Linked DNA regions of Homo sapiens: all the other regions are linked to region 1. Evidence: fine-mapped expression QTL. A gene starts in region 1. Each other region holds a variant in brackets. All regions are shown on one strand. Distances are between the middles of the regions. Region 1 holds the start of KRT79 (keratin 79). Region 2 has its middle 8.9 kb from the start of KRT2. Region 3 has its middle 19 kb from the start of MIR9898.

What was found.
Region 2: its variant is fine-mapped to the expression of KRT79 in whole blood (TOPMed, PIP above 0.99).
Region 3: its variant is fine-mapped to the expression of KRT79 in whole blood (INTERVAL, PIP 0.99).

What each region holds. Positions count from the first base shown.
Region 1 is chr12:52,832,998-52,835,755 of GRCh38, forward strand. KRT79 (keratin 79) reads right to left here and starts at 1,314. Exons shown (of 9, transcript NM_175834.3): 1 at 787-1,314. The coding sequence starts at 1,263.
Region 2 is chr12:52,659,740-52,662,497 of GRCh38, forward strand. No RefSeq gene overlaps it. Among named protein-coding and RNA genes, the nearest start is that of KRT2, 8.9 kb to the left of the region's middle. The variant C/A (reference allele first, on the strand shown) is at 1,432.
Region 3 is chr12:52,878,429-52,881,186 of GRCh38, forward strand. No RefSeq gene overlaps it. Among named protein-coding and RNA genes, the nearest start is that of MIR9898, 19 kb to the right of the region's middle. The variant C/A (reference allele first, on the strand shown) is at 1,533.

The DNA of each region.
Region 1 (2,758 bases):
CTTCCCCATCATGACCCGCTGCCTTGGCTCAGGATCGAGGTGGACAATGCCAGCGAAACAGACCAGGAAATCCCAGCACAAGTGTTGCTCCCATCCATCTGGAGGCAAGGGCAAGGTTCAGGGCATGCCTATGGGCAACAGGTCAAATTCCACATTCCCAGAGCTTGGTGACCTGGTGACCACCCTCCTCATTGTCCACCCCAAATTGAGCTTCTTCACTCAGAGTGTAAAAAAAGGAGAAGCGGAAGGGAGCCTACCCCTAGGACCCCACCCACACACAACTGTGTTTTGATCACATCTTGCCCTTAAGCCTCCTCCAAGCCTGAAAGAATGGAACAAACAGGGCTCCATGCTCTTAGCCTTGAACAACTCTTTCAACTCCTGAGCATTGTTTCCCCAGCTGTAAAATGACAAAAGGCAATGCAGGCCACCCCACTAAGAGGAGCTATGAGGACAATCCATTTTTTGATGATGAGGTAAGGCTACTGTGCAATCAATCGTATTAATCATGGTGGTAGGACAGGCTTCAACACGGGCAAGGTGGACTTGGCAAACCGGACTCATGAGTAGACTGGAGACTCCCCCCGCACAGGCACGGTGAAGACCTGAAGGCCGCCTCCAGCCACCCACGTCTCGGCATCCCAGGCTCAGACCGGGAGAGCTCCAGAGCTCTATCAACCACCACCCTAGTACAAGTGGGCTACAGCAGCCCTGGCCCAGCCCACCCTCTATTAGAGGTCCCGCTTCTTCCCCAAGAGCTCCCTTCCTCCTTCCTGCTTGGCCCACCTTGTCGATGAAGGAGGCGAACTTGTTGTTGAGGGTCTTGATCTGCTCCCGCTCCTGAGTGCGCACTCGCTGGATCTCGGGGTCAATCTCCACATGGAGGGGGGTCAGCAGGCTCTGGTTGACAGTGACCTCCTGGATCCCCCCAGGAGGACAAGCAGGCCCAAACGTCTGCCTGCCAGCCCCCTGTCCCATAAATGCCCTGCTGCCAAAGCCAAAGCCCCCCAGAGCCCGCCCCAACAAGGCCCCTCCGGCCACACTGACAGAGATACTCTTGTGGCCCCCCAAGTTATAGAGGCTTCGGCTGCCAAAGCCACCTGTGCCGGGGCCACAGTGGGCCCCGCCACCACTGCCACTGCTCCGAGACACCGTCACTGAGCTGAAGCTGGTGCGGGCCTGGGACCCACTCCCTCCGCTGGCAGAGTTGGAGCTGAAGCCCCCTTTTGTGGAGTATGTTTGCCGAGAGACGGAGGACCTCATAGCTGCAGAGGGGCCGGAGGGCAGGATGAGAGGGCAGGAAGGGAGTGCCGTGAGCTGCTGGGCCACTGTGGGCTTTTTATCTTTTCCCAACTGGGCCGGCTCCCCAGCTCCACAGACACTCCTGCCCCATCGCCCCAAGGGGAGAGGGAGGGGTCCTTAGGGCCACGGGGAGTGCCCTCTCCCCAAGCAGGAGGGAGGGGCCCTCCCGGTTATCACCTGTGCTCCAGAGCTGGGGCTGAGCCGAGACTGTCTGGGGCAGGATGCCACCTTCTCCCCCTGCCCCCAGGCTCTCCTCGGTTGGCACAGGATGATACGGGCTCCCATGGCCACCCCCACCACCCAGTGGCTGGCTTGCTGTCCTCCCACCCAGCCCCAGAGGCCACTGTCAATAGGGCTCTGTTCTACGGGGTTTGTCCCAGGCCCCTGTTGTAAGCCAAGGCTGCAGGGCCTGGGGCTGTACAGGTGGTAGGAGAAGGAGCATTGGGCAATGGGCTGCCAGAGAGAGCATCCAGGCCTGCTCCCATCCCACCCCCAGCCAACGGCCCACCACTCCTCCCAGGTCCAGGGTGTGTGACACAGGTGACAGGGCGAGAGTGGGGATAGCCTGTGCCTCTGCCGTACAGTGGCAGAGCCTTCTGGGAAGTGAGCCTATGCTGGCAAAGTGAATTCAAGGACAGAAAGAGGATCCCTGCCCAATCGTGGGGCCCAGGCCCTTGATCAGGAGGTAGAAAAGGCCTGGGGTCCTCAGGCAGGGCCCAGAAGCCTGGGAGCAAAGGACATTCTTATGGAGGCTGAAGAGAGGGCAGGGGATTTAACCAATACCTGAGATCCCTGAGCCTCTACCCCACAGCAGAGTCCCCACAGAAAGGTTCAGCCACTTTGGAGGGAGCTGGAGGTGGGTCAAGGACACAGACCACCCTGGGTGGAGACAGGCACAGCTCCAAAAAGCAGGTGTTCCAAAAAAGCCCCAGGAGGCCCACGCAGCAGCCCCGTCACTCCCATCTTCCCCTGCCCCACATGCAGGAGCCCATGTTTCTGATTCAGAGGGGCCAGGGGAGCTCCTTAAATCACCTCATATGGTCCCCGCCGCCCACTTCCTATTCACCTCAGTCTGCTGGGACCAAACACAGCCCCAAGCAAAGACAGAGACGTCAACTGTCAGGGCCGAGGGGTGACTGAGGAGGTGACTTTAGACACTGGCCCTCCCCACCCCCTTCTCTCAGCAAGAAGATGGGCTCAAAGTGAACAGAGACTTGCCTGAAAAAAAGGAGCGAGGACAGCATCGCTGTGCTCCCCACCCCCATCAGATGAGCAGGACAACCAGCCAGGCTGTGTCCCCAGGATCCCAACAGAGAGGACATGGGACTGCCACGGAGAAGGCTTGGCCTCCCTCCCATGTTCCCCACAGCCCAGCAAGTGAAGAGACAGCCTGCTCCAGGACCAGAGGGAGCTGTGGGATCTTCTCCTAGGGCCCCTGGGAGGCTGTAAGTGGCTC
Region 2 (2,758 bases), 170 kb before region 1:
TGATCTCTTATTCACCAGCCACCCTCCTCTAGTTTCCACCTCTGCTTCTCTTCTTCCCTAGACCAGCAGCCAGGAGATCAAGCTCAGCTGGGTCCCAGGAGCCCTCCGCATCTTCCGAACCCTTGCTCTTGCAGGAGCTTTCTAGACTCCCTCACCCACCTAACAGCCTTGTTGCCTGGCATCCTGGCCCTTCTTGGGGACACCTGCTTTCCAAACAGCAAAACAAGGAGCATCATACTAGAGCAGGTTGGCTGTTTACATTACCTTGGGAAAGCAGACTTTGCCTTTGTCCTAAAACCCAAACGATCGTCTGTCAAGGGGTGAGCAGGCTCCCCCTGGTTCCTCTGAGAGCTAGAGGAAAGAGCACTGCCAGGCAAGGGAGGGGCAGGACTGGGGTGAGACCTGATGATGAGGTTGGGAGACGCCAGTTTATGTTTCCTCACTGGTGTTTCAGCAGCAGCGCATGGCACTCAGCTCTTTGCCTGGCATTGATGGGGAGCAGCAGGCCCTGCCAGAGATGACCAGGGTCCCTTCAAAGGACCAGGGGGCACAGCTCCTCATCACTCTCCCCAGGCTGATGGAAGGAAAGAGGACTGAGAAGGAAGCTTCTGAGGCCAGGTTCAAGGCAGACCTGCCCTGCTCTACCCTGGTGGAAAACCCAGGCTTTCCAACACTGGGCTGTTGGGCCCTCTGCCTGTCCCCTGAGTCTTTTCTTTGCCTTCTGTCCTCATATAAAAAGTGACTACAGTATCCCAAGAGAAAACATTGAGAGGGATCTTCTGTTTAGGAAGAAAAGCTGAGTAATGTAATTAAAAGTAATAGCCAAAACCACAATAATTTTTGCACCAACCTAATATCACAATTAATTATCCTTGCATGGTGCCTTGTAACAAGCAAAGGCCGCCTGTGTACTGGTTAAGGACATGGATTTGTCCAACACACCTGGGTTGAATCCCAGCCCCACCACTTATTGGCCTCTTGGCCTTGGAAATGTTACCTACCCTTTTGTGGCCTCCATTTCCTCATCTGTAAAGTGGTGGTAACAGTAGAGTTGACCTTTTAACAACCGAATGGTTAGGGGGCATGACCCCTCTTGCAGTTGAAAATTCAATATAACTTTTGACTACCTAAAAACTTGACTACTATTAGCCTACTGCTCACCAGAGGCCTTATTGATAACATAAGCAGTCAACATATATTTTGTTTGTTTTATATATATGTTATTGCTGTATTCTCACAATAAAGTAAGCTAGAGAAAAGAAAATGTTGTTAAGAAAATCATAAGGAGAGAAAACACGTTTACAGTACTGTACTGTATCTATCAATACCATAAGCTTACATCATGTGTTTGCAAGATGAATTATCTATCATGTCAGAAATGGCAGGCAACTGCAGCTGCAGACCTCAATCTACGGTACATATCAAGCAATT[C/A]AGCTTTTTTTTTTGTAATGTCATGGTTTTTCTCTGCTTCTTGGGAGCACTTCCAGCATCACTAGTGCCACTCTGCATGGGTCCCATGGTGTTATTCAAGGTTTACTGTAAAGCACTAAACATGATGAAAAATATGCGAGAACCTCCAGAGATCACTTTTTACTGCTATAAGCAATTTACTGGGGGAGCTAATTGCTCTTGTGGAGATGACTAGCATCACACAGTGTTTTAATGGCAATACCTGAGATCACTGAAGTAGCAACAGGAGGTGGCTACAAAATGATTACAGTAGCACATATGTATCACAGTTAATTTTAAGCAGTTATGATTTAATAATGCACCTTTACAGTTGCTTACATTTCTCTTGACTTTGGCACTATGTAGAGTCCGTGTGTGCACACATTTTGATAAATTTTAACTTTTCATAACAGATTTGTGTATATTTTATGGGAGTAAGTGATAAAATAGACTAGTATCTACATATATTTTATGCATTTATGACATGCCTAACTTTTTTTTAATTTTTTTATGTTTCTAGGATACAAGTTCATCTTCAAGTTTTTTCAAATTGTCACAAATCTCCAAAAATTTTTCCAACATATTTACTGAAAAAGAATTCACATATAAGTGGAGTGGTGCAGTTCAAATCTGGGTTGTTCACAGGTCAACAGTAGTACTTCAGAGTTGCTGTGAAATAAGTGATTTATGTGACACAGCACAATTTCTAGCACAAAGCAAATATTTCTCCTTTCGCATTATCTGTAGAAGTTATAGTAAGTGTCTAGAACTTCCAACATTACGTCGATTTTATGTTATTGCCACAATCTCCTAGCCTGCATCTTGCCACCTGATCATGCACCTCTTTCCTTAGCTTACAAGCCCACCCTAACCCTATGCCCTGGAGCTCCCCCGCTGTCTCCGGTCCTGCTCCCAACTGGTGGTCCGCTGCTCCCTGCTCAGGCACTAAGTGGCCATTCATTACAAGGCCAGTGGCCATGGATTTAGGATATAAGCCCTCCCTTCATGAATGGGTATTTCTTTTAAAAGAATGAAGCATAGGACCCCACTTTGGCCCCCAAGGAAGCAGTCCTTCCTGCGTACCCAGGCTGCACCGCTGCTCGTTGGCCCCATCCCACTCCCACCCTTGGGTGCCTTCTCAAGGAAGAGCAGCAGTGCTGATGATCGCTCCCTTCATGTATTACTTCAGGTCCCTGTTGCATGTGTCATTTCACTTTGACACTCTCCCTCTGAAGTAATTAGGGCAAATGTTATCTCATTTCACACATGACCAAACTGAGCCTCTGAGAGAGTGAAGAGACCTGCCTGA
Region 3 (2,758 bases), 45 kb after region 1:
GCTCTCACTGGGACTTCTGGGGGCTGACTCTGCTCTGCTTCCTGACATGAGTGCTGGTAGCATGATCTGTTCAGTTTGTGAAACTTCATCACACTGTAGACTTATGACTTGAGTACTTCTCTCTATGTATGTTACACTTCCATGAAAATTGTTTTTGTTTTAAATAAATCTCCCCGTGTGTATGAAGCTCCACATCTTTCTGGGTTGGTGTGCACATGTCTGTCTGTGCCTGTCTGTACCTGTCTGCGCCTATGCACATACAATCTCCCATAGGAATTATTCCTTGTCTCTGGTGCCTGAGGCCCTCCATATGTGCACCTGACAGTACACACACGCGCACACGCATGCACACACCCACAGCCCCCTGCCTGCGTGTCTTCCCTCCATGATGGCAAGGCTGCCGCTGCAGAGGGTGGGGAGGGAATGTAGTAAGGCCTTTCTTTCATTTAACAGCAGATATTTACAACCATCTGCTCTGTGCCAGGCACGGGGATACAGAAGCATTCCAGTCAGACTGGGCCCTGGCCAAGCTCACCGTCTGCTGGGGAGGCTGTGGTGTGGTGAGAAGGGCCCTGTGGGGTAGCACAGGGTAGGGGGAGCCCAGCCTCGGAGGGGCAGGGACGGCTTCCAGAGGAGGAAATCCTAACTAAATTGGGAAGATGAAAGGCTCACAAGTGGATGGGTCAGCCATAGGAGGTGCATTGCAGACAGGGGGACAGCAGGCACAGGGGCTAAGGGTGTGAGGGGGTGCGACTTCCTCAGGGAACCCCCAGGGGATTCAGCTGCCTGAGTGGAAGGCCACGGCAGAGGTGACTTCAGCGGGGTCAGGCGGGCCTGGAGTGCCAAGCTCAGGGGCTTGTGTGTCTCCAAGGAAGGGTTTGGGCCAGGCTGGGACATGATTGGGATCAACTGGAAGGAGTGCTGTGGAGGAAGGCGCACTGAACTGAGAGTGAGGACACGGAAGTTCTCACCCTGGCTCTGCCCGATGCTGCCCAACTCCCCTCTCTGAGCCTCCAAAACGACAGCGTGCTGCACCTCGGAGCCGCTGGCTCACAGGCGGCTGCTTTCTCCTGGGGCCTGTCTGCTGCCGGCTTGCCTGTCCTCCTGGGTCCTGCCCACGCGCTTCTGCCCCCAGGCCCGTGCAGGCGTGGACCTCCCGCGAGGGCCTCAGCAGTCTCCAGGACAGAGAGTGGAACCCGCCACCTGCTGGAAAGGCCGGAGCCGGCGCAGAGCTAGCGCGGGGCAATGTGGCGCCCTCTGCGGGGAGCCCCTGCTGCCTCGCGCCGGCACTCAAACCTCCAGTACACAGTGCAGTGGAGGGCACACCAGCAGCAGCACGCCTGTCTCACCCTGCTCCTCAGTGCCCTCCGCCCTCAGCTCCCCCCACCCACCCCCCACCATGGCCCCTGCGTTGCCAAGGGCACAGGGCATAGGAGGACGTGGACTGATCCACCCCAAGCTCCGCTCACCAAGTCATGCCCTAGCCTACATTTCCCATGAGGATGGGAGCTTCCTCTGATTTGCACAAAGCC[C/A]CCCTGTCGGTTAGTGGTGGCCTGCAACCCAACAACCTCCCAAGTCAGCCTCCTGGGATAGGGAGGATGTAGTGAGGGGGTGGGAGGGTGTGCAGGCTCGGCTTCCAGAAGCCGGGAGAGCAGTTTCTTTCCCTGCTCCTCTGCTGCCTCCTAGTGGATGTCTGATGTCTCTCCGGTTTGCACAAATCCATCCCGCTTCGGTCAATCCTAGCCGTCTTGGTGCCCATTCTTCAGAAGTTCAAGCAGGCTGACAGCAGGCTGCAGGGAAAGAGGATAATCTACGGCTGCCCACGCTTCTCTGTGTCCCTTGGGTCCCCAGCACAGCACTGTCCCCCAGTGCCAATACTGGATTCTCAAAGTCTAGAAATGAAGGCAGAAGCTGGTGTTGGAGATTTTGCCCCTTTAATCAGCTGCACCTCAATCCCCTCTGTGCTGGCTCAGGTTCTTATGCTGCAGGAATCAAGGCGAGCCTTGCCTCTCTGGCCTCGGTCTCTCTGCTGTGTTTCCTGTGGCTTGTTTGATTTTGTTCAGGACAGGTTGTTTTGTTTTGTTTTGTGTGTTTTGGGTTTGTTTTTTTTGTTTTGTTTTTTGGCTTTTTGTTTGTCTGTTTCGAGCCAAGGTCTAGCTCTGTCACCCAGAATGGAGTGCACTGGCACGATCTCTGCTCAATGCAAACTTTGGCATACCCCCCCAACCCCCGCCCCCAGTCAAGTGATCCCAAGTAGCTGGGACCACAGGCATGCACCACCACCCCCGGGCGTGTGTGTGTGTGTGTGTGTGTGTGTGTCTCAGGGTCTCACTCTGTCACCCAGGCTGGAGTGCCATGGCGTGATCTCGGCTTACTGCAACCTCTGCCTCCCAGCTTCAAGCGATTCTCCTGCCTCAGCCTCCTGAGTATCTGGGATTACAGGTGTGTGCCACCACACCCAGCTAATTTTTTGTGTTTCTGGTAAAGACAGGGTTTCACCATGTCAGCCGAGCTAATCTCAAACTCCTGACCTCAAGTGATCTGCCCGCCTCGGCCTCCCGAAGTGCTAGGATTACAGGCATGAGCCACTGCGCCCGGCCCCAGCAATTTTTTTTTCCTTTGGTGGAGATGGGGTCTAGCCATGTTGCCCAGGCTGGTCTCAAATGCCTGAGCTCACGCAATCTGCCTGCCTCTGCCTCTCAAAGTGCTGGGATTACAGGCATGAGCCACTGCACCCCCAGCCATTTTTTCTTTTGTT